Homo sapiens: one gene and its partner. The protein of the gene in region 1 interacts with the protein of each later gene in a biochemical or structural test. Each region holds a gene or a part of one and is shown on either strand. Other genes may lie near its edges.

Region 1 (15,572 bases):
TCTTCCTGACCCTCTCCCAGACCCCACCCACCCTCCATCCAGTTGGCTGCTCCAGGTTGTGTGGTGGGGGGAATTTCACAGCACTTTGTGTTAAGCGCTGACTTATCCCTTGTATAATACTTTCATTGACTGTAGTCCCTAATACTGGACTGAGCTCCTTGAGCGCAGAGACTGTGAGTCTTACCTGTTTTGGCATTCCTAGACACACCTGGTCTGTGGAAAGTGCTCACTAAATGTGAATATAAACTAATGAATAAATGGGTTTCTACAGCAGTTTATACTGCATCACACAGTTCCTCTAATGAATTTCTAGCCCCCTTCCCTGTTGGGGCATACAGTATTTTATTCAGTATTTCTCCTGAAGGCCTCTCTGTGCCAAGCTCAGTTTTAACCAAAACATTGGTGATCTGGTTAAGTCATTACTGAATTATCCACTACGTTGAATTCTCCCAACCACCCCGTCCCAGCCCTTAGCTTGGCCGAAGGAAAATTAATTGGTTGCAAAGTGCGTATCTAATTACAACAGCCAGCCCCCGACACAGAGATGCTCAAATGTTAATTATAACATATGCATCTCAATAACCGACGGTGGCATTTAGTGCAGCATTAATCACGCCACTTGGGCCCCCCAGTGCATACACAAAGCTCCTTTTCATCTGCCATTAGCACAGACTTTGCACTTTCGGCACGGACGTTCTCATCCTTAAAGCCTTTCGGACTCTAAAACCAACGTTTCCCTGTAAGCCTGGACTGCGCCTAAGCCCCCAGTTCTCCCACCGCAGAGGCCCCCACCCAGGGCTGCGCCAGCGCCGTGGGGTCGCTGGGCGGCGGGTTTTGGCGTCGCTAGACTGGGCTGTCTTGGCAGCTAAGGCGACATCCCGAGCGTCCTGGGGCCACCCTGCTCTCCAGGGCCCGCCATCCTGGAAAAGAAAGGCGAACTACATTACCCAGCAGGCCTCCAGCCGCCCTCTTTCCTTTCAAGTCTTTGCACGTGGCCGGAGGGGAGGGCGGGGCCTGAACGTCACTCTCCTACATTCTCTTTCCCTGTGTCAGATCAGGGATCATTTTTTTTCCTTCCTCTACTCCCTCCCCCCTACCCGCCCCTCCCTCCCTGTTTCCCTTCCCTCCCTCCCTCCCCTCTCTGCTGGGTCTGTGCGCTGGGGCGCCCGATCCCCTCCGCAGCTGGGACGCTCCGAACTCGAGGCAGGAGTCGGCTCTCCGGAGCCTCGTCCCTCCCTTCCCCTTCCCTGCCCCCTTCCCCCACCCCCGACTCGGGCTTGGCGCGGCGGCCAGAGGAACCCCGAGGTGAGCATCTCCTCGCCCGTCCTCCTCTTATAGTCATCTCAGCTTGCTGATCGATTCGGGGACCCGGGAGGAGGGCTGCGTGACGTGGGCGTGCTTATAGATAAATCCGGGAAAACCGCCCCAAACAATCAGCCCCCTTCCCCCCATCCCTGCTCCTGGGCCAGCGGGGTGTCCGCACCCATCTACCATCCCCTCCTCCCCCTCGGTGGGGAACTGCACTCCACAGTGTCGCCCCCTCCCTGGGTTTGTCCCATTCCCTGCCGGGTTCCCCGCCCCGCGGGGTGTCGTGGCCCTGGAGCTCCGGCGCCAAGGGGGGCTCTTGGGGGACGCACGGCTGGAGCCCGGCTCGCTTTGGAGCTGCGCGGTGTAGCCGCTGTCATGTGCCGGGTTCCGACCTGGGAGGAGGAAAAGAGCGAGCGCGATTCCTCTCCCTTTTGTTTTGAAGCCCGCATTTGCTGCATCGAGCAGTTGGTTTAGTATCAGCCAAACTTGCAGCTGTTCAGACCGCGCTCCGCCGAGGTAGGGAGCCCGTCTCGGGGTGGCGTTTGGGGGCCGGGGGCTGCGGCACTCGGGGCTGCGGGAGGGACCCCGAGAGTGTGTCGCCACGCCGCCCCTCCCTTCCCCGGTGACTGATTGTGTCTGTGGCAGCGGGCGTGTGTGAGTGTGCGCGCCCGTCCCCGCGGGCTCGGGGATGTCTGTGGATGGCTGTCGTCTAGACAGGGCGCAGCCCCCTCCCTGCGTCCCCGGTGAGCCCGCGGGCCGCGGGGGGAGCGGGGGATGGGAGCAGAGGAAGAAACCAAATCGGTGGACCCGTTGCGGTCTCCCCTTTGGTTATTCCCAACGGTTGTGGTTCTGTTGGCTTTTTTTATTATTCCTGTCGCTGCGGTGCAATCGGGCCTGGGGAATAGATACGCCCGGCGGAGAGGGGTTCACTTGACAGGCTCTGAAAAGCCACCTCTGGGTGGCGAGTGACCCGAGAGGCCGTGGGGTGGGCTCCGGCTCGGGTTCATCAGGACGACGAGCAGGTAACTGTCCCGGGCGCCGGTCATGGGGGAGGGCGGGCGGGGGGGCGATGGCTTGGGCTGCGGCGAAGGTCTGGGGCCTCGGAGGGCCGCGTGCCGGTGCCTGGATGTGGCCGGAGGGGGCGTCCGGGACACCGCGCGCCTGAGCCGAGTGTTTCTCTATTGATGGTAAAAGACAATCGGGAGGGGGGTGGTCCGAGCCCGTTATCTGGGCGGCGTTGGCTCTGTTTGGTTCCGCGGAGTTTTCAGGGTTGGGGCTGGGGGGTGTGAGCACCGCGGGGTGTGCGGCGTGTAGAGGGGAGGGCTGACTGGCGGCGCCGCGTGCGTCTCCACCCCGAGGAGTGAGGCGTCGCCTCCCCCGCCCGGCTGTTTGTGTGTACACACGGCTCCGGTGTGTGTGGGGGGCGGGGACCGCAGACCGCGGCGTAGTGGGGACAAGCGTGGGCCCCGATCCTCCGCGCGACCTGTCCCGCCAGCCCCCTCCTTGTCTAAGTCGGGGTCGTGTGTCCCCGCGCGCGCGCGCCCGAGTTACTTGGAGAGGGGACCGTGCGGCTGTGGGCCGGGGAAGACCGTAGGGTCGCGTGTGCTGGTCTTCGGTGCAGGAGTCCCAGGTCCGCTGTGCGGCCGGAGTCACACAGCCCCTCCCTCCGCGTCCGCGACGCCCCGTGACCCGGCAGACTGGGGGTCCACCCGGCGGCGCGGGGGGTTGGTTTGGCTGCGCCGCCCCCAGTCCACGCTGGGGTGACCCCGCACCGAGGCGTTCTATGGGTGTGCGTGCCCGCGCTCGCCGCCGCTGCCTTCGCAGACCGGGGAGAGAGTCAGCGACTGCCAACCGCAGCCCCGGCTCTTCAGTCTGGGGACAGTGGGAGCCCAAGCCCAGCGCGCCCCAGCCCGGCCCAGGCCGCCGCCCGCCCGGCGCTGTGTCTCTGCGGCCCGAGGATTATCCCCCAGTCCAGGGGCCCGCGCGACCAAGGAGGAAGCCGCTGGAGCCGCCGGCTCGGCCGCGGCTAGAGCCTCCGTAGGGCGAAAGTGACACAGCGCGAGAGAGCGCCGCCGCTGCTGGAGCCAGGGCCGAGAGGAAGGAGCCGCCCAGAGCGCAGGGAGGGGCCGCCGGCTGTCCGTTCCCAGTTCCTCCTGCCCAGGGCCCGATCTGGGCTGAAAACCTCAGGAATCCAGGCTCCTAGCAGGCTCGGGCTGCGCGAGGAGATGGCCTGGCTTTCAAGAAAACCCAATTATACGTGAACAGAATGCACCGAACAGACGCTAGAGGATGGCCAGGACACGCTCAGGTTGTCTGGGGAAACTCCTGAGTGTTTGACACAGGATTCGATTTACACACAGATCACCTCATCTGTGTCAAGTATCTGTCCTGGATAATGGATGCTCAGAGGCAGCAATTTTGTAACACATTCTAGGGCACAGTGTCATCAGTGATTAACAGCTTGCTAGAATAATAATATGTTTGTATGACCTTACAGGGCAGGTTTTCTTCCCCCAGAACCTCCCCCCTCCCCCGCCAGATATCATAGCATTTATTAAGAGGGTCCTGTGAGGTAGGAGAGTATTAGCCCCATTTTACGGATGAACACACTGAGGCTCAAAAATGTGGCTTGCATAAGGCCTCTGGGTGGGGGAAGGGCCACATTCCCCCTTTTCTCAGCTTATGGCATTTAATTAATAGTGGCCACTTTTTTTCTGAGTATGGATTCTTGACACCTCAGGAAATACTGAAGCTAAAAAATAGAGTATATTATGCTGACACATATTCTTTCTCAAAACACTCTTGATTTGTTAACCATTCCTAATGAGAGCAGCCACTAAAGAACGGAAGTCTGCATTGCTGTTATTACCACGCATTTAATAATTTGCTGTTGGTGAATGGATAGCAGCTGTGATACATCCAGTTTCTACCAGAATCATATGTGCATATAATAAATGTATATGGTATGCCTGTTCATGTAACACTTACCTGTGTTTGTATGGCTGTGTTCATTGAGTCTTTATTGAATTCAAGGAGCAAAGAACTTATACATGCCTGCATGGATTTCTCAGAATTCATGCATGTGAAGGCTGTCAGACAGCCTGGAGGGTTATTAAGTTTAGCCAACTAATCAATTAATTAACCATTCACTCAATATGTACTGGGCACCTACATGTTTGTGTATCTAGAAGTGCATACAAAGAAAACTTAACAAATGTTAATTAAGTCCAGCAAATGTTTATGAAGCACCAGCCTCACTTAGGCCAGATACTCTGCTTCTCTACAAAGATAGTAGAGCAGAGATAGTTAAGTTGCAATGCAATAACACAGCCTACAGGAGGGAACAAATCATAAATATTTTAGAGCAGTCACCCTGGAACTTAGTTTCACATATGTTGGTTTCAAGGGGCCCAAGATGCCAGTTCTTATTCTAGAGCAAATGCAGAAGGAAGCGATGGGGAAAAAACACCTTGATAGCCTTGTTACCCTGAACTTCAGGCTGTTTGCAACCTCCCGGGAGGGCCCAGAGGTATGTTCTTCTGTGGAAGTTAGGCAGCTGATGGAAATTACCCTGAAGCCAACCAACAGGTTTCTGGCGACACGGAGCTAAGGAGATGTTCTCCGTGGTCCCGCCCCAGCTCAGATGTGCTGTGACTCAGGGACAGGCTGTGGCTTTGGTCAAGGTCTCACTCAGGCCCTGCCTGGGTGTAGGAGTTTCTGCCTTACAGGTCTGTGTAGGTGTGTTAATACAAGTCTGCTTTTTATCTAATCCCAAACTCACCGTCTGGTCCCAGATATTGTCCTCTAATTTCATTTCTGTTTTGGGCTCCATTGCCCTTGTTTTAAGGTTATGTTGTTTGCAGCTCAGGTCATGAAGGAGGAGGCAGGAGATGGGTGGTTAGGTTGGAGAGAGAATCCTGAGCCCAGATAGAGAACAGGAGGTACAAACATGCAGGCAAATTGCAGTTTCTGAGAATTCTCCACACGTGGTGGCATTTCTGCATAACTTACCTGATAACACAGCCCCATTTGATGTCCTTGGCTTGGCAGGGGGAGGGGGCGTCTACCTCTGGGCCTCACTGCTGACTCACCGGCACCCTGAGCTCAGCTGCTTCCTTTCAGGTTTGGGTTTTCTTTTGCCCCTGCCTCCCGCTGTGTGCGGTTTAATTTAGAACCTTGCTATAATGGTGGCCTTCTCCCTGTGTTAGCACCGTGCTCTCAGCATGCCTCTGACTTTGGAATTAAGGCCAGAGCTGTGGTTCACAACGGGGTGAGAACAGACACATCCTTGGATCTCCGGCACCCAGAGCTGGGGAGGACTTTGAAGATGATCTGATCTTCACGTGAAGACCTGAAGCCTAGGGAAGTGGAATGACTTGCCTAAGGTCATGGTGAGCCCTTAGCAGAGTGGGTAAAAAATCCTGGAATTTGAGATTTCATCCAATCTTCTTTCTATGTACCGTAATGCTTTCTGGAAAAAAGTTAGGTTCTTCCCAAAGAGTGAGAACTCTTTATCTTCTTCTCTCCTGTCTTCTGGTTCTGGGAAGGGCTCTGAAATTCATTTGACTTCTCTTTCCTTCACAACTGGCCCTTCCTGCCTTATCTTCATCTTTGGCATTCATGAGCAAATGAAGGTCTGTATTTGGGAAATATAGGGTGTCTTGGTGTCCTACAGTGCTCTTAAGCTTGGTCTGTGGCTTTCTGGCCCTGAGGCAGGGTCCTCAGGAACCTTTTGGAAGTGTTTGCAAAGCTGGGATGCGTGTGTACTTTTCTAGGAAGAGAATCTACAGATTTCATTTGATTCTCAACTGACTCAAGTAAGGACAAAACTACTGGTAGGGAGAAGGACAGAAAGGTTGGATAGTGGTTGGTTGACACTGGGGCTACTTTAATACGCTGCACTTGATTTGGCTTTACAGTTTGCAAACTATTTCACACAAATTATCCCATCTGCCTTTTATAATAGGTGGTTATCGTTATCAGCCTGTGAGGCAGTTGTTGTTATACCCATTTTGCAGAGCAGGAAGCTGAGCCTTCATGGTTAGTGGCATGCCCAAGTCACGAGTAAGCAGTAGAGCAGGGATATGAACCCTGACTTCAGACTTCAGGTCCAGTGCTCAGGGCTGAGGTGGCTTGCTGTCTGACATCATTATGATGAACAGAAAGCCTTGAACTTCCCAGAGCTTCTTAATGCCTACTGTTCACTCATATTCGGCCACAGAGCCAGACCCAAATGCTCACTTACCCAAGGGGTAGGGGAGATAAAGTATGGGAGGCAGTTACCATAGCAACGATCTGTAGAGTGGAGCCAGTTTGGGATGGTTTCATGGATGAGGTGAATTTGGGAGTAGGCCTGGGTAATGGTGGAGGAGGTTTTAGGCTGGGGCAATGGCCCAAAAATGGTTAGGGGGCAACTAGGTGCTTGGGGTGGGTAGAACAGACCTAAGAGGTTTACTTGATCATCCTGCAGTCGGTGCGAGCTTCACAGTAGTTGTCGGGCTGCTTTTCTATGCCTGTCTTTGTGCTAGGCCCTGGGGCTATGACAGTGAACAGGTACAGCCCCCTGCCTTCAAGCAGCCAGCTTTCTAGTGGGAGAGACAGATGCATAAACAGTTCCATTCAACGTCATGTGGGAAGTCTAGGTAGAGAGAAGCCCAAGGCCCTTACAGCGGCACAGACAAGGGGCAGCCACCTGCTCCGGCCTCAGATGTCAGGGAGGGCTTCCTAAAGGAGACGGCTCAGGAGCTGAATCTTAATGGATGAAAAGGAACTGGCCAGGAAAGGAGATGGGAGACGGGCATTCAGGGAGAAGGCATGGCGTGCGCAGGGTGTGGAGGCATGAGGCTGCCTGGGTGTAGGAAGGAACCGCAAGCAGTGAGGTCAAATGCAAAGGCGGAGATGCAGACAGCGCTCAGAGTGGAGGAGCTTTGTAAGCCTGGTTTCAGACCTTGGCTTTTAGCCTGCAGGTAAGGCATAGAGGAAGGACTTTAATCAGAGAGGTGTACAGCCTTGCTTGGATCGGAAGGGAACAGGACTGGGAGCCAGGCGGCCATGGGACTGGTGAGGCAGTAACAGGCTCTCCACGGCATCCAGGTCATAGGGGGTGAGACCTGGAACAAGGGCCATGCATCTAAGGATGGACCAAAGGTCATACATTAAAATTAGTTGGGAGTAAAGTCCGCAGTGATTACTTAGACTTGGGGGATAAGGGAATCATCTCAGTGGCTCCCAGGTTTGTGGCCTCACTGACTAGATGGACGGCAGCTCTTAACTCAGGTGCGAACTTCTGGTTGCTGGAGCAGGGTCTGCTGGGGTTGGGGTGGGAGGGAAGATCATGGTGAGTTCAGTGCTCCGGTATTGAATTGGAATTGCTGGTAGGATAGTGGGGTGGTGCTGCCCTACAGACAATGCACTGTGCAAGCTAGAGGCTGCAGAAGTGTGTGCCCAAGCTGAGCCCTGGGAGCGGGGAAGCATTGGCCACTGAGCGTAACCACGGTGAGGGCTGCTGTAGACAATGAGAGCAGACCTCTTCCTCCCATTGTCAGATAATCCTTTGTCATGCCGGCCGCTGTCGTCAGGGAAGCCAGGCGGGGATGCTGTGTCATGCTGGAGGCCCAGCTGGCAGAATCCAGCGACAGCCAAGAGCGTGTTTCAGCTGGAAGCATTAGAGTGAGTTAGGGGAGAGGCATTTCGCTTTTTAACATCCACAGTGAGCAGAGCCCTGTCCCAGCCCCTTGGAGTGTACAGAGTGGGGAAGCCCTGGAACCTGCTTCCAGGAGCAGGTAGTTTTGTTGGGGAGAGAAGATATGAACATATGAAGCCACTAAAAAGCTGTAACAACCCCAGGGAAGAGTGGAATGCAACTTAAATAGAGTGTTGCAGATCCCTCTCTTCCTGCCATACTTCATTTTTATAGAGCTGATGTGTTTTAGGCAAACGTCCAGTCTTTGCATGTTTGAATTCTCAGAACCGACAATAGTGCCTGGCACATTGTAAGTGTGTGTTCAGTCTATGTTTGTGGATCTGCAGGGATGTACCCAGAGTTAGTCGTCTGGGGTGGGAGGTCAGTCAGGGAAGGTTTCCATAAGCACGTCCAAAAGGGGCATCCCAAGACTGATTTAGAATACTTTTAGTACCACAGTGGAGTAAAAATCTTGAAAACCTTCCAATGACAGAGCACCTAGAAAGGCTGTGTAAGCTGTAGCTAGCGTCCTTTCAAAGAAGAGCTAAGCTCATGGAATGTAAGGGAAATCCCCAGGGATCTCAGGCAGTGTGGACGGTGAGCTCCAGCTGAGGCTCGTCTAGGCCTGGGGGTTGGGAGAGGTGTTGAGGGGTGCTTCCTGGCCTCAAAGCCCAAGGGTTTGAGTCGTGACTGCATCTCCTCCGAGACTAGAGATGATACCAGGAATCAAGAGCCCTGCCTAAAACAGGACCTGGTAAAAGTTTGCATGCTGGGAGAAAGGATGGACTAGACAGCAGCCCGTCCGCATGGGGGATGGAAAGTGGGTGTGCTGCTTTTTGTCTTGACCTGGATGTGAGGTGGAGAAAAATCTTCCCTAGAAATGTGAGACCTCAGGCCTGTTAGAGCTTTGAATGTCCACTACACATGTGGTCCAGGAGGCCCTCAAGAGAGAAATTAGCATGTAAAGACTTGGGGGCCAGTGTCTTCCTGACTGTGAGCTCTAGGGCATCAGGGGCCTGGGGAGAGTCTGGGGCTCTTTGCCCTTTGCTGACTTAAATCTCCACCTTGGGAGATGCTTTGCGATCAGGGCAGGGTAAGTGAGGGAGGAGAGAGAAGAGAAAGGGCAGAGGTGCCCCTCGGTAGGAACCTTTTAAAAGGGCCTTGGAGACAGCTGCACAACTCGGGGAGGCATGTGCAGGATGGCAGAGAAGGACAGTTCCATCCAAGCCTTCATCTCTTAGGAAAAAACTTCAGATGAGCCCCGTCTAGGAAGCCCAGAACATTCTCCCTACTGCATACTCAGGTCAGGTTCTTACAGATAAGGTTTCTTTCCAGGGTCCCCTTAAGGGTGCCCTGTGCAGATTGCAGTTGCTACTGGTCCTCTAGACTGGGCACTACATTGTCTTCCCATGCTCAGAGTCTTTAGTTCCTACAGTTTCAAACTCAGGAGACATCTTAGAGGTCATCTGGTCAACCCTCCACCTGGTGTGGGAATCCTGACTGCAGCAGCGCTTGGTTCCAATGTGCTTGCTGCTTGTGGCCGGGAGTTTATTGCCTTGGAGGCAGCGCCTTCCCTTATGTTATAGCTGGAAAGGCCTTGTACTGAGCTCTGGCCACCCTCCTCGCTGGCCATTTTCACCCATGGCCCCTGCAGCTGTTGTGAGAGATGGTTTCTAGACCTTTCACCATCCTGCTTGCTTCTGCTGGAAGGGCCTCCATTTGTCAAGCTGAGATTCTGTGAGAATCCAGCCAACTTCTGTCCTAACTTACTTCACACAGAGGCAGCTTTTGAAGATAGATGTGAGGGTAGCTGAGCCGGCTGCATAGGCGCAGTCTGTGATGGGGGAGTTCTGAGAAGCTTTGGCTCGGTGCTTTTCGGATGATCATGAGAGAGGCAGCAGCACCTGCTGCAAGTTCCTTCCTCCGACGCCCAGAATACATTTCAGCTTATAAGTAAGTAACTTGGGAATCCCATGCAGGGAGCTGTGTGGAATTTATTGAGTGCAGGGAGTTTATTGAGTGCCTGTTAAATGCCAGGCACAATGCTGGGCGCTCTCTGTGTGCCTCGCTAAATGAAAGTAACCTCTCTGAGGGAGACAGAGAGGCAGAGATATGGTAATGCCTAACTGTAGTTATGACAATTGAGCCCTGAAGGGATTCAGAAAGAATGTGTGTGGTTCCATCCAGAGTGGGTGGAGCTGACACATTCCCCATGCTGTTCCCTTATAGGGCCTTCCCCTGGGGTAGGCAGTATCATGATCTCACCAGTAGCTGGGAACACACAGGCCTGTCCCACACTCTTGGGGCATTTGCTGAGATACTTACACGTTTGAACCATGAGATCAAGAAAGTGACCTGCTAGAGAATTCACATCTTGGCATGTCACCAAACAGGCTGGTGTTTACAAGCAAAGTATTTTTTACAGCATGCGGTTTATCTGTCTCCGGTATCTACCTACAGTACCCTGGGCACTCTCAGGAAGCAAAATGTCTTTCTGTTCCTCCATCTCCTTGATGCTTGGCATCTGTGTGGGTCACATATTCAGCAGATTGGGTAATAAAGAGCATGCGTTGCCTTTGCAGCAAGGTTGCATCAGATGGCTGGACGTGCCTGGATGTGCTCTGCCACTGGCATGAAGGACCCTGTGCAGACAAGGCCAATAGTGAAGGTCAGGGATTCCGAGAAAGCACCCAGTTTCTCCTCTTCTCCCTCTAAAAATGGTTTCTTCTGCCCACATTCTATTGATTTGCCTTAATCCTTTTAGCTGTTAACCTTTGCCTCAGTTTAGTGGACACACATGGTATCTGCAGTGGGTCTGGCTCTAGGAGTGAGGTGAGATGAATTGAGGTAAGCCTGGCAGGGTCCCTGCTGCCCATCTGCCCATCTTGCTGGGGAAGACAGAATAGCCTTGCGCTAGTGTAAGGTGGTAAGTATGGGGTCAGGAGAATGAAAAGGGTGCCAAGGCAGCCAGAAGTCGGATGACTGTGAATTTTTTTTTTTTCCAATGGATAATCATGCTGGGACACAGATATAAACTGAGGTTGTCCTGGGTAGGTGAGGGCTTATGGACACATGGGCCAGGGAGGGCGTATGCATGTGGGTCATACCTGACACTATTATCAGACACTGTTATCAGTCATTTATACTGCAGGGTGCACATAGGGGTGATGGGGGAGGTGCTCGTGCACAAGAGGAATTGGCAGCTGTTTCCTTCCTTTGCTTAGAGGACGTAGGGGAAAGCATTATCTGTGGGGACTGAACTCAGAATTCAGATGGGGCTCAGTTTACAGCCACAGGGTTCTATCTTATATCTCACCATGATCTCAGTTTGGGGATTGGGGTGGAAGTATGGACAGATGAAAACCATCGGGCTTGTGGGATGTTATTGGCTACAGGTAAAAGAACAGTGTACTAACGATGGCTTTAAAAACAAGGTGTTTCAACTCAGCCAGAAGTCTAAAGGTAGGAGCTCTAGGGTTGGTTCATTCAGGGAGTCAGCGATCATTTCAAGGACTCTGTCTAACCTAGGCTGCCATCTTCAGCACATTGGCCTTTGTTCTCAGGCCAGTCCCCTTATGGTCATAGCATGGCTGCCACTGCTCCGGGCATCATGTTCTCACATAACTGCGTCCAAAGGCAGGCAGGAAGGTTAGATTCTCCTTGTCTGTCTTAATTTGTCAGGAAGGGAAGCCTTTCCCAGAATTCCCCTGCTGAAGATTCTATCAAGGCTCCTTGAAGAGAAACGGGTCAGTACCCATGCCTCCGCTCCAGTGGAGGAGGAGAAAGCAAGTCCCTGGTGCTTTCGCCTCATCTAGAGCAAGAGGCAAGCTGTGTTTGCAAGGAAGTGGGGAAGGGAGCAATGGTTGGCTAAGCAAAGAGGAACATTTACTTCACCAAGTTTCAAGATGTTTTTATTTATTGGGGGGGAGTTAGTGAATTAGCTTTACTTTTTTTTATATCTCAATATTGTTGAGGTTTTTGTTTGTTTGTTTGTTTTTTTAAAATCTCACCCCCTAGTTCTGGCAACCACCAACCTGGTTTATATCACTATAGGTTTGCCATTTCTGGTAATTATTACTTCTTAAGCCACAGGTAATGCTGGTGCATAGGATCCCAGGTGTTCCATGGATGCCTTTTTTGTGGTCCCAGGACATGGGTTCTGTGGTCTGTTCTCCCAGCAGCTCCTCCACTTTCCCGACACTGGGGCCAGGTGGAGAACCCCAGTAGGCAGAATTGTCCAGAGGGAGGGAGCATATGTCACTGGTGGCCTAGGCAGCAGGACTGGAAAGGCCTGAGGGCCTGAGGCTCCAGTGGGTTGGTAGAGGATGGCAGTCACCTTTGCAGGCAGCTGTGGGTTGGGGAGAGGAATTGGTGCTCAGCTGTGGCCTGCACATTCTGCAGAATGAGTTCTGTTGTCCCTGCTGATTGGGAAGCCTGGCCCCAGGGAATGCAGGGTGTGGGAAGATGGTGGTGGATGCCACCTTCCCCTCCCCAAACCACTATCCCCTCTATACATACACATGCAAACAGCCCAGGCCGTGGGGCTGACCATGCAAGCTAAGAGACAAATCTGTCCCCTCTGGGCTCCTCTCCACTCTGCTCAGGGTGTCACTGTGTCCTCCTCCCCCTCTTCCCACAGCACAGTCTGTGGGTTGCTAGAGCACTTAGCACTTCCCATCACTCCCTGCCTCCTCATCATTCCTTGGATACTTGCCTATCTGTCCCCTGGGATCATGAGCACCTTGCTACTGTCCTGGGAGTCATCAGGGCATTTCCTATAGGGCTAGGGTGGTGCCGGCCACAGGGTCCATGCTTCATGGAAAAAAAAGTATTTTTAAGGCAAGATACATATTTCTAGAAAGGGACTTGTTCATTTGGTTATCTGTCCAGATTCCAAACCAGTTCCGTGTGGCACTGCACAGTGCCCTGGACGAGAACTTACGGATCTCTACATGTTTTCCTCCCTAAGAGGAAGAAAGGTAATCAACTATCCTGTTCTGGGCTGAATTGTGTCCTCTCAAAATTCATATGCTGAAGTCCTAACTCCAGCGCCTCAGAACTGGATTGGTGGCCAGGCCTTTAAAGAGGTAATTAAGGTAAAATGAGATCATGAGAGTGGGCCCTAATCTAGTATGACTGGTGTCCTTAAAAGAAGAAGAGGACACAGATAAGACACAGATGGGGTCAACAGTGTGAGGATGCAACGAGAAGGCAGCCATCTGCAAGTCAAGACGGAGGCCTTGGAAGAAGCCAGCCCTGCCAACACCTTGATCTTGGACTTCCAGTCTCCAGAATAAATACATTTCTGCTGATGAAGCCACCCAGTCTATGGTGGCCTGCTATGGCAGCCCTAGCAAATGAATATGGAAGGATTCTCCCCTGCAGCTTGTGGAGGGAGTGTGGCCCTGCTCACACCTTGGTTTTGGACTTCTAGCCCCCAGAATTATGAGATCATACATTTCTGTTGCTTTCAGCCACCTGATTTGTGGTCCTCTGTTATGGCAGCCATGGATACTAATACACATGCATTGTGTGTTATGCTTGTGTTTAGGACTTCACCCCCTAAGTGTATTTCATCTTTCAGCTCTGAGTGTAGTTGTTATTCTTCTCTTTTGCAGATACACCTGAAAAGTTAGCATTCCTCCTGAGGTCACACAGGGAAGCCAGGCTAGAAACCCAGGCCTGTGTGGACTCTGGCCTGCAAGCTGTTGCATTTGGGCAGTGGGGAGATGTCTGTAAACGCAGGGATTGAACAGGTGGTCTTTCTCCTGAAACCTGGGTGATCCAATAATAACTTTCTTTTTCTTTTTTTTTTTTGGAGACGGAGTCTTACTCTGTCACCCAGGCTGGAGTGTAGTGGCGCGATGTCGGCTCACTGCAAGCTCCGCCTCCTGGGTTCACGCCATTCTCCTGCCTCAGCCTCCCGAGTAGCTGGGACTACAGGCGCCCGCCACCACGCCCAGCTAATTATTTTTTTTGTATTTTTAGTAGAGACGGGGTTTCACTGTGTCAGCCAGGATGGTCTCTATCTCCTGACCTCGTGATCCGCCCGCCTAGGCCTCCCAAAGTGCTGGGATTACAGGCGTGAGCCACCGTGCCTGGCCTAATAATAACTTTCAAAGCCTAACAGTTGCTAAGTATTGTGGTGTCATAGTAAGCACTTTGCATGTGCTGTCTTCATTAGCCATTACAGCTTCTGTTTCATAGATGAGAAAATGAGGGCACTTCTTCCAACGGGGACATTTAAGCAAGAAAAGCCAGTGACTTGGCCAAAGTTGCATACCAGGCTTGCCAGTGAGAAGACAAACTGAGGACGGGTTCTCTGAACTGTGCCCTCTTGGCTCTCTAGAAAGAACTGTGTGGAAATTTCTGGATTCCTGTGTCTTAGTCCATTTGGGCTGCTATAGCAAAATACCATAGACTGAGTAGCTTATGAACAGGAGAAACTTATTTCTTGGGCTAGGAAGTTCAAGATCAAGGTGCCAGCAGATTCAGTGTCTGGTGAAGGCTCAATTTTTCATAGATTGCACCGTCTCACTGCTTCTTTTCATGATGGAATGGGTGAGGACGTTCTCTGGGGTGTCCTTTATGAGGGCACTAACCTCATTCATGAGGCTCTGCCCTCATGACCTAATTGCCTCCTGAAGGCCCCACCTCCTAATACCATCGAGTCAGTGGTTAGATTTCTAACTTGTGAATTTTGGGGGGATACATTCAGACAGTAGCGGAGGTTGAGTGTTTTACCCCAGGCCACACAGCTAAGAAGTGGCATAACCAGTTTTGCTCAAGCTTTGCCTGTCACACACAGGGATTGGCAGGTTCCCCTGTAGTCCCCTGATGTTCTGAAAAGGTCACTGGTCTTAGATTGGCCACCTGTGATCTGGCTGCTCTCAGGGAAGTCACTTCACATCTGGGTGCTTTGTCCTCGGTGACCTCAGGGCTTGGACGATATAATACTAAAGTCTCTGATCCTCTCATTCTGAGGTTCCCAGTGCCCATCCTTCTATAATACAGGGATTAGGAGGGAGAATCCCTGAGATGTTTTTGACATTTGCCTACACCTGAGGGAACAGTTGCACATCTTCCTGATACGGCCAGTTGGAAGTGTGGTTTGGCCATTCATTCCTTCCCTACAAAATTACCTCTTTGCACAAGGTAGAAATGATCCCCACCTTGTGCCAGGTTTGTTCTAGGCTTTTGATGGTGTGGGCTTTGAGTGACGTCCACAAAAGCGTGTGGGGAGAGGGTTGCTGGTGAAGTGATGTCACTGTGATTTCCTCCTCTAGGTGAAACAAAAACGTGGTTGCCTGCAGCCTCATTCGCACCAGAGAGAAGCCAGCCACGGGCGTGGCAAGCCTTGGAGGCCCAAGTTGAGCCAAAGACCTCTGTGTCTTTCCCTCCATCCTGTTTCCGTTTGCCTTTAGGCCCAGGTGGCTGGCAGATGACGGTGAGGAGCGGGTGATGGGGTAATTCCCGGAATGCAGACTGTAACCAGGGCAGTCAGAACAAGGATTGTTAACCTGCAGCCGCCCAGCTCCTGGCTCATCCCACGAGGCGTTCGTGATTTTACTCACCTCATTAG
Region 2 (15,572 bases), on another chromosome or scaffold:
TCAGAAGATTATCATCCCTCAGTACTGTACCCAGTCTCAGTAAATATTTACAACATGGTGAGAAGGTGTCAGCTGTACCTGCTTTATAATTCTATGAAGTACTCAGACTTACAGATAATTCAGAACTAAAGACAGTCCCATGATAATCTGACAAAATAAAACAAGTAGTCTAAAGTCTTAGTGATTTTGGTGTGTGCTACATCCATGATCAAATCCAAACACTCCTGGGGTGGGCTGGATAAGTTTTTGGTAGCCTGCTTCATTATCAGAAGTTTGTTAATAAGCCTTGCCAATAGAATACCATTTCTTCAGCATCAGTCATTTCTCAACTGGTTAATGGATCAGTAATCTCATCATGAATGAGAATGGAGAGAGAACAGAAGACAATTCTTCTCACACTTAACAGGAATTAGGATGGGTCAGTGCAGTCTGGGTACGGTGGCTCACAGCTATAATCCCAGTACTTTGGGAGGCCGAGGCAGGTGGATCACCTGAGGTCAGGAGTTCGAGACCAGCCTGGCCAACATGGAGAAACTCAGCCTGTATTAAAAATACAAAATTAGCTGGACGTGGTGGCTCATGCCTGTAATTTCAGCTACTCGGGAGGCTGAGGCAGGAGAATCGCTTGAACCTGGGAGGCAGAGGTTGCAGTGAGCTGAGATCATGCCATTGCACTGCAGTCTTGGCAACAAGAGTGAGACTCCGTCTCAAAAAGAAAAAAAAAAAAGAATGGGTCAGTGCAGAACAGGAGGAGGCAGACATTTGGCAAGTACAGGATCATACTGTTTAGTATAGACATGTCTGGAAAATTCTTACCCTGGAGGTTCATATTCAGATGGAGGAGTCTACACTGGCCAGATAACCTGGAGGAATGCCAGACCTGCACTTTTATTATATGGATACAGGCTTGGGACTACACAGCGGAAACACCCACCTGAGATAGCCTCAATTAGAGACTTACCTTGCAGAGCCTTCTCAGTATGACAGCGAATCCCTCTGTATGGCCAGCCAGGGGAAGCACGAGGTTGCTGGAAGTGAGTAGTTGCTCTGCACCGTCAAGCATGCACACATCTGTCTAGATGTGCCCGCGATCTGTGAAACTCGGGCTTTGTTAGAATAATGGAATTCTTTGGTGGTCGGTTTTATGAAAGGCAATATTGTCACAATCCTGTCAACATTGACATTGGTAATGACTTCAAGCTGGGACTAATGGCATAGAGACAAATTAAATACAAGATGGGAAACTCTACACTCTCTGAACTTCTTAGAGTCAACTTCATAAGCTCCAGCATCAGGCCGGATGTTGGATCAATGAGATAAGGTTAACCCATAGAAATGCCAGAACTGAAGCTGAAAACTAGATATGGGTTTTTCTGACTGCCACACACACTGCAAAAATTTGAAGCAAATCTCCCATCTTAATGACTTTATAAACACATACCAGAGATGAACGAAATAAGTTGATTTCAGCCATATGATAGCCCTGGACTACTGAAGTGTGGACACCCAAAAGGAATCATAATTTAGTTTGAAGTCTAAAATCTAGTTGGTTTTATTAGACCCCCAAACACAGTGGGCACACTGCCAAGGAGCTCCATGACTTCTGCTCTAGTAAGACAGCCCTGGATAGACAGATGCAGCTGATAGGTTATGTTCTACATCTAGTTTGCTTTTGTCCTGCTAAACTCCAGTTTAGTATGGTTTGATACACATAGTTCACTGATATAATGCTTTTATTTTTTTGGGTGGGGGACAGAGATGAGGTCTCACTATCTTGCCCATGCTGGTCTTGAACTCCTGGGTTCAAGTGATCCTCCTACCTCAGTTTCCAAAGTGCTGGTATTACAGGCACAAGCCACTGTGTCCCACCAGCCTTTGAATATTTCTTGACATACAGTTTGAAAGAAAACAAAGTATGTGTCATGGTTCAGTAGCATTTTCCTTTTATTGCAGCTTTACCACTCCTGAAGGCCCTAAACCCCGTTCCAGATGCTCTGACTGGGCAAGTGCAGTTGAAGAAGATGAAATGAGGACCAGAGTTAACAAAGAAATGGCAAGGTACACATTTTGGACCACCTTGAAGTGTTAATCTGTGGCGTTTTCAGTAACACATTAAATTTGATATTTGTCTTAGAACAGTGGTTTTCAAAGGTCTGGGCTCCAGACCAAAGGCATCAACATTTCCTGGGAACTTGTTAGAAATACAGATTCTCAGACCCTTCCCTGGGCCTGCGAATGGGGTGGGGCCTGGCCATCCTGTGAAAAGCCCTCCAGGCGGGTCCACTCTTTCAAGCTTGAAGACCACTGTCCTCTTGGTGGTAATCCTTCCAAGAGTGGAAGTAGGTGCACAATGGTGTTACTGCTGGATTGCAGGCTGGAGGACTATCAGAACTAACTTTCTTTTTTTTTTTTTTTTTTTGAGACAGTCTCGCTCTGTTGCCCGGGCTGGAGTACAGTGACAAGATCTCGGCTCACTGCAACCTCTGCCTCCCGGGTTCAAGCGATTCTCTTGCCTCAGCCTCCTGAGTAGCTGAGATTACAGGCACAGGCCACCACGCCTGGCTAATTTTTGTATTTTTTGTAGAGATGGGGTTTCACTATGTTTGTCAGGCTGGTCTTGAACTCCTGATCCGCCCACCTCGGCCTCCCAAAGTGCTGGGATTACAGGCATGAGTCACTGTGCCCGGCCTAACTATCAGGAACTTACTATAGTCATTTGTTACCACCGACCTTCTGTGTGCGGTGCTCACACAACCCAGCACAGTAGATGGAGTGCTCTCTCCAGATGAAGGAATACATTGACACTTGGCTTAGGCAACAAACAGCTCAGAAATGCCAACATACAAGGAAAGGTCTCAAACTTGGATTCTGTGAACCTCTTGCAGTTGCACACAAGATTGTTGTGTGTATCCAAGTTCTTGCAAACTAAGCTACTTCGTCTTCGTTGACTCATTACCTAATGCATCCTTAACCATGTTTAATCTCCCTTGATTATCAGTGTGTTGATCCTTTCTCTTTTGATGAGTTGTCTAACTCAAACCCAGTTGCAAGGACTGGGTTTATTCAAACCCAGTTAAAATGTGGCTCATAATTGGTTGAAGTATTTTACAAGATAATTTTAGCCAACAAGTGGCTGATAAACAGGGTCTCAAGAAAAATGTGTCTTGCGTGTCAGCCGCGGAACGATACCTAGACTACCTGTTTTCATTTTGGCAGCCAGTGATGGTATTTATATCAGCCTCCTTTGAAAAGGGACGGGAATATGTGGGAATTGGTTATTGAACATTTGGGGGAGTTATTTGTCATTTCTTCTGGTATCAAAATGTGTGGGTGGATGTATGCCTTGGTAGAAGAAATGAACTAGGAGTTCACAGATGAGAGTACCAGTGTTTTTAGTGAATTATTGCATTTATATAGGTCTTGACTTCCTCAATTATAAAATTAGAATGTTTGACTTGACTTGTATAGTTTGTGTTGCATGCACAAGTCTTAGAACAGTTCTTGCATACCGATAGCCTAGTTGCTCCCTCAAGTCACCCCTTGCCAGGGGTTATCTGCAGCTCTTATTCATGCGTATTCCACCTGTCCAGATTGTCCTGTGAGTGGACCCTATTTGTTCTTCAGATATCTCATGGGTCTGTGCCTGAAAATTGTCCTGTTTTGGAAAACAGCACTGTTTGGGCTGCTCTGTTGATTATACCCTTTGTGATGGAAAGCTACGGCTTTTATTTACTTACTTATTTTTTTGAGATGGAGTCTTGCTCTGTTTCCCAGGCTGGAGTGTAATGATGCAATCTCAGCTCACTGCAACTTCCGCTTCCTAGGTTCAAGCGATTCTCCTGCCTCAGCCTCTCGAGTAGCTGGGATTATAGCTGTGTGCCACCACGTCCGGCTAATTTTTGTATTTTTAGTAGAGGCTAGGTTTCACCATATTGGCCAGGCTGGTCTTGAACTCCTGACCTCAGGTGATTTGCCCGCCTCGGCCTCCCAAAGTGTTGGGATTATAGGCGTGATCCACCTTGCCTGGCCAAAGCTGCAGCTTTTAGTGCAACCTGTGTAATTTAAACTGCTGGCCCTTTAGTGAGCCATTACTGACAGGCCGGCTTACTTCCTGACAGTAAGAGCGGTATGAAATGTCAGCTTACTATGCTTTAAGGAGACTAACAGACTACAAACTAGCAATATAAGAGTATGAAAATGGATTTTCTGCATGGCATGGTGGCTCACACCTGTAATCGCAGTACTTTGGGAGGCCAAGGCGGGCGGATCACCTGAGATCAGGAGTTCGAGACCAGCCTGACGAACATGGAGAAACCCCGTCTCTACTAAAAATACTAAAAATTAGCCAGGCGTGGTGGCAGCAACCTGTAATCTCAGCTACTCAGGAGGCTGAGGCAGGAGAATCGCTTGGACCCGGGAGGCGGAGGTTGCACTGAGCCGAGATCTCGCCATTGCACTCCAGTCTGGGCAACAAGAGGGAACTCCGTCTCAAAAAAAAAAAAAAAAAGAAAAAAAAGAAAATGGATTTTCATCATACCTGAAAACCAGTCTTTCTCATCTGTGGTACTGGAGAGAATGAGGCCCTGCAGCAAATGATTTGCAGGACTAATCTCTGAATCGTACAAAGATGGTGTTATATAGCCAGTGCTACTCTAGATGCACGGGAGATAAATTACTTCATTACCTTCTGGCGTCCAAACTGCACTGAACACCTCAGCAAACTTGGGTGGATTTTAGATTTTGAGAGGAGGCACAGTAATACATGACATAATTTAGATACCTGCATGACAGGCCAGGGGTGGTGGCTCACTCCTGATCTCAGTACTTTTGAGAGGCTGAGGCGGGAGGATTGCTTGAGCTCAGGAGTTCAAGAGCAGCCTGGGCAACACAGACCTCCATGTCTCCAAAAAAAGAAAAAAATTTTTTTGGAGATGGTTGTGGCGGCACTTGCCTGGAGTCCTAGCTGCTTGGGAGGCTGAGGTGAGATGATTGCTTCAGCCCAGGAATATGAGGCTGTGGTAAGCCATGATCGTGCTACTGTACTCTAGCCTGGGTGACAGAGTGAGACCCCATCTCAAAAAAAAAAAGATACTCACATGAACTTGGAGCTCAAGGTAGCTCGTGGTTTCAACGTCAGATTGCGCTAGACTCCTTTTGGAGATGTCATACTTTTTTTTTTGCAAAACTGCGTTCTGGTAATGACTGCAATAGAAAGCAGATGCCTCAGGAAGTTCATGAGGAACAAGAGAAAAGGGGGCACGTTTGGTCTCCAGGATTGGAGAAGGTATGCAGTGCCCAGTAGGCATATGAGTCCCATTAGTAAGTTTGGTGTTTTTAAAATAATTTATTTCAATTTATGTTTTGTTTTTCTTTTTTTAAGGCTGCCAAGTTTTAGGGAATGTAAATTTTTGTTGTGTGGATCTCACTACTTAAACTGAACCTGACAAAGATTTCTTTTGGCCCACGGAGCTTCTGGATTGCATAGGATGGTGTGCCTGCGGGCATCAGGGTGGAGCTTCCTCAGACCTGGCTGCTTTATTTTTATATCTTTTTTAAAAACAGCAATATTTATTTTGCCCTCAGATATAAAAGGAAACTCCTCATCAATGACTTTGGAAGAGAGAGAAAATCATCATCAGGAAGGTAAAGGCTGTGTAAATGTTTCTTTTCTAATTTGATAGACCTGTAATTTGTTAAAAAAAAAAAATTGTGACTGTCAGAAATGCTGACTGTCGCAGTAGCATTTATTAATACCTTTTTCACTAATTTGAAATACTGTATCTGTTGTGTACTAAATTCCCATACATGCAGTCTCCGGACTATTTAGGATTCATATGGTTGGGAATCTGGAGTGAATCTTCCATTATTGTGTTTTGACATTTTCTTGGCTTACCTTACATACATGGTGATCTTAATTGCAGGGCTTATTCTGTTAATCTGTTGTTTTTTCAGTTCTGATTCAAAGGAGTCTATGTCTACTGTGCCGGCTGACTTTGAGACAGATGAAAGTGTCCTAATGAGGAGACAGAAGCAGATCAACTATGGGAAGAACACAATTGCCTACGATCGTTATATTAAAGAAGTCCCAAGGTAGTCTTGTTTCAGTGGCATGTCTTGAACAAGCTGTGTGGCATTGCGTTTCTAAAGAGTTGCTTAGATTGGGTAGTACAAATGATGCTGGGGATAGTTCACACCTGCTAAGAGCTATTTAATAGGGACTTACTGGGGCTTATGACGTAAATAAAGAATGGATTGGCAACTGGAAAACTAAAGACATGAAGATTTTAAAAATCATTTTCATATAATTTTGAATGTTAGATAACATTTTATTTCTTAGGAGTCAGCAATCATAGATGTAAGCTTATTAAAATACATGATGGGGAAAAATGAAGTTCAAGTTAAATATTGTAAAATTCTAATTGGAGAAAAAAAAATTGGCATTGCCCTATTGTCTTTAAGCAGCATGTTCTTGCCTATCCTGGTCCCTCAAACACACAGACACAGAAGGATATAAAGAAAGCTTTAGTGTTTTCCTGAACTTTTTGGCAGGATTGGGGTTGAAATTTACATTTCTGGGCCAGGTGCAATGGCTCATGCTTGTAATTCCAGCACTTTGGGAGGCCGAGAGGACTGCTTGAGGCCAGGAGACTAGCCTGGGCAATATAAGGAGACCTCATCTCTACAAAAAATTTAAAAATTAGCCAGGTGTGGTGGTTTGCACCTGTAGTCCCAGCTACTTGGGAGACAGGTGGGAGAACTGCTTCAGCCCAGGAATTCAACGTTACAGTGAACCATTAATCACACCACTGCACTCCAGCCTGGGCTGCAGAGTATGAGACTTTGTCTCTTAAAAAAAAAAATTTTACTTTTGGCTGAGTGCAGTGGCTCATGCCTGTAATCCCAGCACTTTGGGAGGCCGAGGAGTGCGGATCATGAGGTCAGGAGATCGAGACCACCCTGGCTAACACGGTGGAACCCCGTCTCTACTAAAAATACAAGAAATTTGCTGGGCGTGGTGGCACACATTTGTAGTCCCAGCTACTCGGGAGGCTGAGGCAGGAGAATCACTTGAACCTGGGAGGAGGAGGTTGCAGTGAGCCGAGATTGCACCACTGCACTCCAGCCTGGGTCACAGAGCAAGACTCCATCTCAAAAAAAACAATTTTTTTTTTTTTTTTTTACTTTTTTGGAACATAGCTGGCAAAGGAATAGTAAGATTCAATGTGATGGTGCTTTTTTTTTTCCCTCCTGACCGAGTCTTGCTGTTACCTAGGCTGAAGTGCAGTGTTATATCATGTCTCACTGTGTATTCATTTTTTTGAGACGGAATCTTGCTCTGTTGCCCAGGCTGGAGTGCAGTGGCGCAATTTCAACTCCACCTCTCGGGTTCAAGCGATTCTCCTGCCTCAGCCTCCACAGGCGCCTGCCACCACACTTGGTTAATTTTCGTATTTTCAGTAGAGATGGGGTTTTACCATATTGGCCAGGCTGGTCTCGCACTGCTGATCTCGTGATCCGTCTGTCTCTGCCTCCCACAGTGCTGGGATTACAGGGGTGAGCCACCACGCCCAACCATCATGGCTCACTGTAGTCTTAACTCCTGGCCTCAAGCAATCCTCCTACCTCAACCTCCTGAGTAGCTGGGACCAGCGGTGCATGCCGCCACACCTGGCTAAACTTTTAAATTTTTATAGAGATGGGAGTCTCCCTATGTCGCCCAGGCTGGTCTTGAACTCCTGGCCTCAAGTAGTCCTCCCAAAGTACTGTGATTACAAGCGTGAGCCACTGTGCCCAGCGGATAGTGATTTTTTTGAGACCGAGTTTCACTCTAGTCCAGGCTGGAGTACAATGGTGCAATCTTGGCTCACCGCAACCTCCGCCTCCCAGGTTCAAGCGATTCTCCTGCCTCAGCCTCCCAAGTAGCTGGAATTACAGGCATGCGCCACCATGCCTGGGCTAATTTTTTTGTATTTTTAGTACAGATGGTGTTTCTCCATGTTGGTCAGGCTGGTCTCGAACTCCTGACTTTGGGTGATCTGCCTGCCTCGGCCTCCCAAAGTGCTGGGATTACAGGTGTGAGCCACCGCACCCGGCCCGGATAGTGCTTTTTAATTTTTTAATTTTTTTAAACATATTTGTTCATTTTGTAGGATCTCAGTTGATTTTTTATTTATTTATTTATTTTTGAGACGGAGTCTCCCTCTGTCACCAGGCTGGAGTGCAGTGGCACGATTTTGGCTCACTGCAACCTCCGCCTCATGGGTTCAAGTGATTCTCCTGCCTCAGCCTCCCGAGTAGCTGGGATTACAGGTGTCTACCACCACGCCTGGCTAGTTTTTTGTATTTTTAGTGGAGACAGGGTTTCACCCTGTTGGCCAGGCTGGTCTTGAACTTCTGATCTCAGGTGATCTGCCTGCCTCAGCCTCCCAAAGTGCTGGGATTACAGCGTGAACCACTGTGCCCGGCTTTTTTTTTTTTTTTTTTTTTTTTTTTTTAAGGTGGAGTCTTGCTCTGTTGACCAGACTGGAGTTGCAGTGGCATGATCTAGGCTCATTGCAACCATCGCCTCCCAGGTTCAAGCAATTCTTCTGCCTCAGCCGCTGGAGTAGCTGGGACTCAAGGCATAAGCCACCATGACTGGCTAATTTTTGGTATTTTTAGTAGAGATGAGGTTTCATCATGTTGGCCAGCCTGATCTCAGGCTCTTGAGTTCAAGTGATTTGCCACACCCAGCAGCGTTTGTTTTTTTTTTTTTTGGAGGTGAAGTCTCGCTGTGTTGCCCATGCTGGAGTGCAGTGGCACGATCTCGGCTCACTGCAAGCTCTGCCTCCCGGGTTCAGGCGATCCTCCTCCCTCAGCCCCCTAATAGCTAGGATTACAGGCACAGGCCACCACGCCCGGCTAATTTTTGCATTTTTAGTAGAGACGGGGTTTCACCATGTTGGCCAAGCTGGTCTCGAACTGCTGACCTCAGGTGATCCACCCACCTTGGCCTCCCAAAATGCTAGGATTATAGGTGTGAGCCACCGCTCCCAGCCCCTAGCTGTTTTTTTGTTCTGTTTTGTTGTTTTTTTTAAATAGAGACGAGGTCTCACTGTGTTGCCCAGGCCATTTTTAAATTCCTGAGCTTAAGTGATCTTGGCATGACCTCCCAAAATGCTAGGATTACAGGCATGAGCCACCATGCCTGGTGATCTGTAATATTTAAAATAATACTAATCTCATAGTTTGGTTAATCTTCAGGCTAATGTGGAAATGTGAGTGGCATGTGGGCATGTGCTAGAATAATCTTTCTCCTGTAGACACCTTCGACAACCTGGCATTCATCCCAAGACCCCTAATAAATTTAAGAAGTATAGTCGACGTTCATGGGACCAGCAAATCAAACTCTGGAAGGTGGCTCTGCATTTTTGGGATCCTCCAGCGGAAGAAGGATGTGATTTGCAAGAAATGTATGTCTTTATTGCATTCTTGTCCTGTGATTCTCTGATTGGTCCAGTGACTGGAGCAGCTGCGCACCACTGGGACAGGAGGTCTGGTGCCAAGTCCCCCAGCAGCTGTTGGGGAGCAGAGCAGCTGCTGCAGCTCGGTGCTGAGTTCTTCTGTACTGGGAGGGAGGCAGCTGGAAGGAAGAGTTTGCTTCCTGGATTGAATTTATTTTTTCAAGCAAAGTCAATCTGGGAATACAGTTTTTGTTTGTTGTTTTGCTGTTTTTGTTGTTGTAGTTGTTTTTCCCCTAAAAATTACAATAATCTCTGGAATTTGTTTTTTAAATATAAATATCCTAAAAAGTATTTGAGTCATTTCGGCTCAACCATGAAAATAAAAGTTCTTAATTAAGGAAGGAAGGCTTTCTTTCTCTGTTGGCTTTTTTTTTTTGGGAGATGCTCTGTCACCGAGGCTGGAGTGCAGTGGCGTGATCCCGGCTCACTGCAACCTTCACCTTCTGGGTTCAGGTGGTTCTCCTGCCTCAGCCTCCTGAGTAGCTGGGATTACAGGCACGCGCCACCACGCCCAGCTATTTTTTGTATTTTTAGTGGAGACGGGGTTTCACCATGTAATTCCTGACCTTGTGATCTACCCGCCTCAGCCTCCCAAAGTGCTGGGATTACAGGGGTGAGCCACTGCTCCCAGCCCCGTTGGCCTTTAAACTTGTGCCTAGTTGAAATGTCTCAGGCCTGAACTTTTGCTGCATCATGGCAATACCTGCTGACCAGGAAGGTAGAGAGAATGATCGTGTACCTCCCTCCCTCTATGTGGGGTTTCTTCTCAGCTCCCCTCTGGTCCTGAGCCTCTCGCTTCCTCAGACACATTCTTTAAACAAACAATTAGAGTTTCTCCTCTGTGCTGGGAAATTTTTTAGAGACTGGCATGTTTGAAACGATTGTAAGTGGCTTTACCAGTTTGTCCTGACAGATGTCATTTGGGTTTTTTCCCCCAGTGTGACACCATTGTCCCATTCTCTGAGTAGAAACTTGGAAAAATTAGTGATAATGCATAGTATGTTCATCACAGTGCTCATTTCTCCCCCTCAAAAATTGGGCTTATGAGTGTTTCTGTTTCCAAGGATGCTTGTGTGGTGAGCCCAGCAGATCTTTTTGTTGCTTCTCATTGCCATCCGCTTTCTCTTTGCTGGATTGATTGGGCTGGGATTAAGTCTGTCAAATAGTCACTGAAAGCTGACCCCTCAGGGAGCCTCGGGCACACTGTCAGTGTTGTGGCTGTACCATATGGATGGGGTTTGTCTGTAGCGCCCCGTCTCCTGGCTTTGTTAAGTTAGTGCCTGACGCACATGTTGGATCTTGTTTAACAGACACCCTGTAGACCTTGAATCTGCAGAAAGCAGCTCCGAGCCCCAGACCAGCTCTCAGGATGACTTTGTAAGTACTTTGGATAAGTCTTTCAGCTTGGGGGTTGCAGGTGAATTGTTAATAACACATGCTGCCTTATAAACTGAAGTTTGGACTGGGCACGGTGGCTCACGCCTGTAATCCCAGCACCTTGGGAGGCCAAGGCAGGCGGATCACCTGAAGTCAGGAATTCAAGACTAGCCTGGCCAACATGGTGAAACCCTGTTTCTACAAAAATACAAATAATAGCCAGGTATGATGGTGGGTGCCTGTAGTCCGTGCTACTCAGGAGGCTGAGGTGGGAGAATAGCTTGAACCCAGGAGGTGGAGGTTGCAGTGAGCTGAGATGGCGCCATTGCACTCCAGCCTGGGCAACAGAGCAAGACTCTGTCTCAAAAAAAAAAAAAGAAAGAAAACCATGTGCTGCGCGTGGTGGCTCACGCCTGTGATCCCAGCACTTTGGGAGGCTGAGGCAGGCAGATCACCTGAAGTCAGGAGTTCAAGACCAGCCTGCCCAACATAGTGAAACCCAGTCTCTACTAAAAATACAAAAACTAGCTGGGTGTGGTCATGCAGGCATGTAATCCCAGCTACTCAGGAGGCTGAGGCAGGAGAATCACTTGAACCCGGGAGGCAGAGGTGGCAATGAGCCGAAATTGTACCACTGCCCTCCACCCTGTGTGACAGAGTGAGACTCTGTCTCAAGAGAAAAGAAAACCGTTTTTAAATGTATCAGTTTAAATACTGTCTCCTGTCCTGAGACAGCCACTATTTGTGGTTTTGTCTAGGCTTTTACAATTCTTTCTGTGCTTATAAACTATGTACATGGCCAGGCACAGTGACTAGTGACTCCTTCCTGTAATCCCAGCACAATGGGATGTGTGCACATCTAAACGTCAGTGTCTTGTAAATGGTACATGTGGTTTCTCTTTGCAGTGTTATTATTAAAATCTGTCTCAGTTGCACGTGAAGTGTACACCTTGCTGTGCATTACATCACATGATTTACCACATAAGGAGTGGGGTGTAGGAAGGGGCCCCTGTTTTCAGGGTGAGATGAATGTCAACCGAGCCATGCTTCTGTTTTCCAGGATGTGTACTCTGGCACACCCACCAAGGTGAGACACATGGACAGTCAAGTGGAGGATGAGTTTGATTTGGAAGCTTGTTTAACTGAACCCTTGAGAGACTTCTCAGCCATGAGCTAACTGCCCCCTGGCGGCCAGGAAGAGAAACAGCTCCTCCCCGACTAGGTGGAAGGCTGGCCAGGCACCAAGCATGTGTGTGCACTTGTACCTGGTGGTTTCTCTGTTAGCAGTCCATTAGCTCATGCTGAATTATTTTTGCCTTACTTTCTTAAGAAACATTAATTTTATGTATAGTGAGTATATTTTGCATGTTTTAAATTGTAAATGGAGCTAAGTCCAAGAAAGTACTTGAAGCTCTCTTCCAGCGAGCTTAATTGCGTAATCCCTGTTGTCCTCCAGGGTAAGCTGACACGTCTACATAACTGGTTTTCCACAGGCATCTTCAGTTATTGCTTGTCAGGTGGACTGTTTTGGATTTAACCATGTAATCCATGGGACCAATTGAGAGTCAGCTACTTTTATAGGCATCAAAGTATTCTCAGACACCTTTAATATCTTTATGGAAACTTAATTTTTGGCCTTTTATCAATATGTCATAACAGCATTCTGAAGTCAGACATTGTTAAATTGAGCTATTAAACTAATGAGTTTTATGTAAGTTATATGGTCTTAATTTGGTACTTGTAAATAGCACTAGTTAGACTCTTTAGAATACTCCAAGAGTTAGGGCAGCAGAGTGGAGCGATTTAGAAAGAACATTTTAAAACAATCAGTTAATTTACCATGTAAAATTGCTGTAAATGATAATGTGTACAGATTTTCTGTTCAAATATTCAATTGTAAACTTCTTGTTAAGACTGTTACGTTTCTATTGCTTTTGTATGGGATATTGCAAAAATAAAAAGGAAAGAACCCTCTTTCACTGACTGGGGCTGTTGCCAGGTGGGCCAGCTGCCGTGAGAGCTGACATGTTTGGAGGGTCAGAATTGTGTCTGCCTTTCTTGTGTCTGAAGCAAGTGGCACTCAGTGAGTGGCGCTGGGTAAAGGGCCTTCTTTATTTTTTTAATTTTATTTTTTGAGAGTTTCGCTCTTGTTGCCCAGGCTGGAGTGCAATGGTGCAATCATGGCCCACTACAACCTCTGTCTCCCGGGTTCAAGCGATTCTTCTGCCTCAGCCTCCCAAGTAGCTGAAATTACAGGTATGTGCCACCACACGCAGCTAATTTTGTATTTTTAGTAGAGACAGGATTTCTCCATGCTGGTCAGGCTGGTCTCGATCTCCCGACCTCAAGTGATCTGCCTGCCTCGGCCTCCCAACGTGCTGGGATTACAGGTTTGAGCCACTGCGTGTGGCCGGGGGCCTTCTTTAATAGGTGTCACATGTCACATTTGGTCTGATGCTTATTCATCAGCACTGGCATGACAGCCTTCCCTGTCTCTTGGGAGAGACCCTGCAGCAGGATAATCATCAGTCTGAGGGTGCCCTGCTCCCACTGCCTTCACCCTTGGACCGTGGTTGCTGCCTGCAGACGTGACCACTAGTCCACGCCACAGCGACCTGTCCCGGAGATCCCTCCAAGTGATGCTGGGCTGGTCTTAAGCCAGGGATGGGCTCAGGTAACTTTGTTCTAGGAGCTTGAAGAGGGCAGAAGCTCTTGTTTACTTAGCTTGTTTATGGAGACCTCAAGCAGTGTCAGGTGGAGGGTGGTAGACACTGGGGTTGTAGCACATGCCCTGGTGAGGAGACCCAGCTCTTTCAGGGTGGTAGGAGGTGCCTGATAAAAGGTGACATCTGGGGAGGGCAGCAAGCAGAGGCCACGAAGTGGGAGCACTCAGCATTGACTTCAAGAGTCCTAAAATGTGGGAGGAGTTCTGGGGGCCTGACTGCAAGCCTCAGTCTTGAGAAGGCAGAGGTGAAGGTCCTTGTTAGATGGTGACAGTTCAGTGGTGCTGTGGCCTCCATCATGACTGACGGAGAGCAGCTCTCCTGGGTTTGTCACTAAGGAGCTACTTCCCCTAAACTGTGAGCAGGTCCTTAGCGATGAGCAGCACTCAGTGCTCTTAGGCTAAAATTCAGTGGCTTCCAAGCAAAAATGACATCCAGAAGACAGCTGGAAAGGTGATCTAAGCTAAAGCTGAGGGTGTGGCATGAAATCCTCTGTTAACCATAGAAAGTTGAACCTTTCTCTCTCTTTTCACTGGAGTGCAGTGGTGTGCCTTCAGCTCACTGCAACCTCCACCTCCTTTGGCTCAAGCAATTCTCCTGCCTGTCTCCTGAGTAGCTGGGATTACAGGCGTGAACCACCACACCTGGCCAATTGTTGTAGTTTTAGTAGAGTTGGGGTTTCGCCATGTTGGCCACGCTGGTCTTGACCTCAGGCGATCTGCCCTCCTCGGCCTCCCAAGGTGCTAGGATTACAGGTGTAAGCCACCGCGCCCAGCTGTTAGAACCTTTCTTTCCCTCAATAAGACTTCTTGCTCCTCTGCAGGAGCCCAAGATGGTGCTAGTCTGAAAAGCCCCACAGGTGTGGCTTCTAATGAACTGAACCCTATTAAGAGTCACAGAATTAACATGGGCGGAAGCTGCTGCCAGGCTGGACTGAAAGGGCCAGGCAATACAAGAGGCCTTGAACCCTCAGGTTCCTACCAGCGGGAAGTAGGAAGATAAAACTCTCCAGCTGCAAACACAGGCTGCCTTTTGTGAAAAAGAAGGATAATTCAGAGATGGAGCCAGGAGCCTGGAGGACTGAGGCTGGCTTAGGGGACTGCCAGGTGATGTGTGCCCAGCTGGATTTCAGACTTGCTGTGGGCCAGGGACTCCTGGGAGCATTTGCAGCAGGTGTCCTAGGTCTGTCCCCGCTGTTCATTGCGGTGGGGGTGTGTGTGTGTGTGTGTGTGCATGTGTGTGGTGGGGGCTGGGGACAGTCTTTACATGGAGAGAGGCTCAACACAGGAGCTGTCAGGAGCCTCCTCCACAAGGCAGTGGATTCAGGTGAGATTCTGGGCTTTTTAAACTAGAATGCTTAGTTTCAAATCTAACAACACATGTATGGGACCTGTATGCTGAAAACGGCACAACCCTGATGAAACAAAGATCTAGTAAGTGGAGAAATGTAACTTGTTCATGGATTGGAAGACTCAATATAGATGTCAATTCTTGGGCCGGGCGCAGTGGCTCATGCCTGTAATCCCAGCACTTTGGGAGGCTGAGGTGGGCGGATCACCTGAGGTGGGGAGTTTGAGACCACCCTGACCAACACGGAGAAACATCATCTCTACTAAAATACAAAACTAGCCAGGTGTGGTGGCGCGTGCCTGTAATCCCAGCTACTTGAGAGGCTGAGGCAGGAGAATCGCTTGAACCTGGGAGGCGGAGGTTGTGGTGAGCCTAGATTGTGCCATTGCACTCCAGCCTGAACAACAAGAGTAAAACTCCATCTCAAAAAAAAAAAAAAAAACAATTTTTGCCAGGTGCAGTGGCTTACATTGTAATCCCAGCACTTTGGGAGGCCAAGACAGGTGGATCACCTGAGGTCAGGAGTTCAAGACCAGCCTGGCCAAGATGATGAAACCCTGTCTCTACTAAAAATACAAAAAATTAGCTGAGCATGGTGGTGTGCGCCTGTAGTCCCAGC

Evidence for each region.
Region 2: the proteins of CTIF (region 1) and SLBP form a complex in vitro, tested with the Homo sapiens proteins (one study listed by BioGRID).

What each region holds. Positions count from the first base shown.
Region 1 is NC_000018.10:48,538,008-48,553,579, forward strand, and holds the start of CTIF (CBP80/20-dependent translation initiation factor), read left to right. Parts: upstream 1-1,023; 5' UTR 1,024-1,305; intron 1,306-1,680; exon of another isoform or gene 1,681-1,824; intron 1,825-1,995; exon of another isoform or gene 1,996-2,330; intron 2,331-15,276; exon of another isoform or gene 15,277-15,437; intron 15,438-15,572. UniProt on the Homo sapiens protein: Specifically required for the pioneer round of mRNA translation mediated by the cap-binding complex (CBC), that takes place during or right after mRNA export via the nuclear pore complex (NPC).
Region 2 is NC_000004.12:1,690,082-1,705,653, reverse strand, and holds the end of SLBP (histone RNA hairpin-binding protein), read left to right. Parts: intron 1-1,953; coding exon 1,954-2,058; intron 2,059-5,583; coding exon 5,584-5,643; intron 5,644-5,952; coding exon 5,953-6,090; intron 6,091-9,302; coding exon 9,303-9,452; intron 9,453-10,813; coding exon 10,814-10,880; intron 10,881-11,940; coding exon 11,941-12,057; 3' UTR 12,058-12,923; downstream 12,924-15,572. UniProt on the Homo sapiens protein: RNA-binding protein involved in the histone pre-mRNA processing.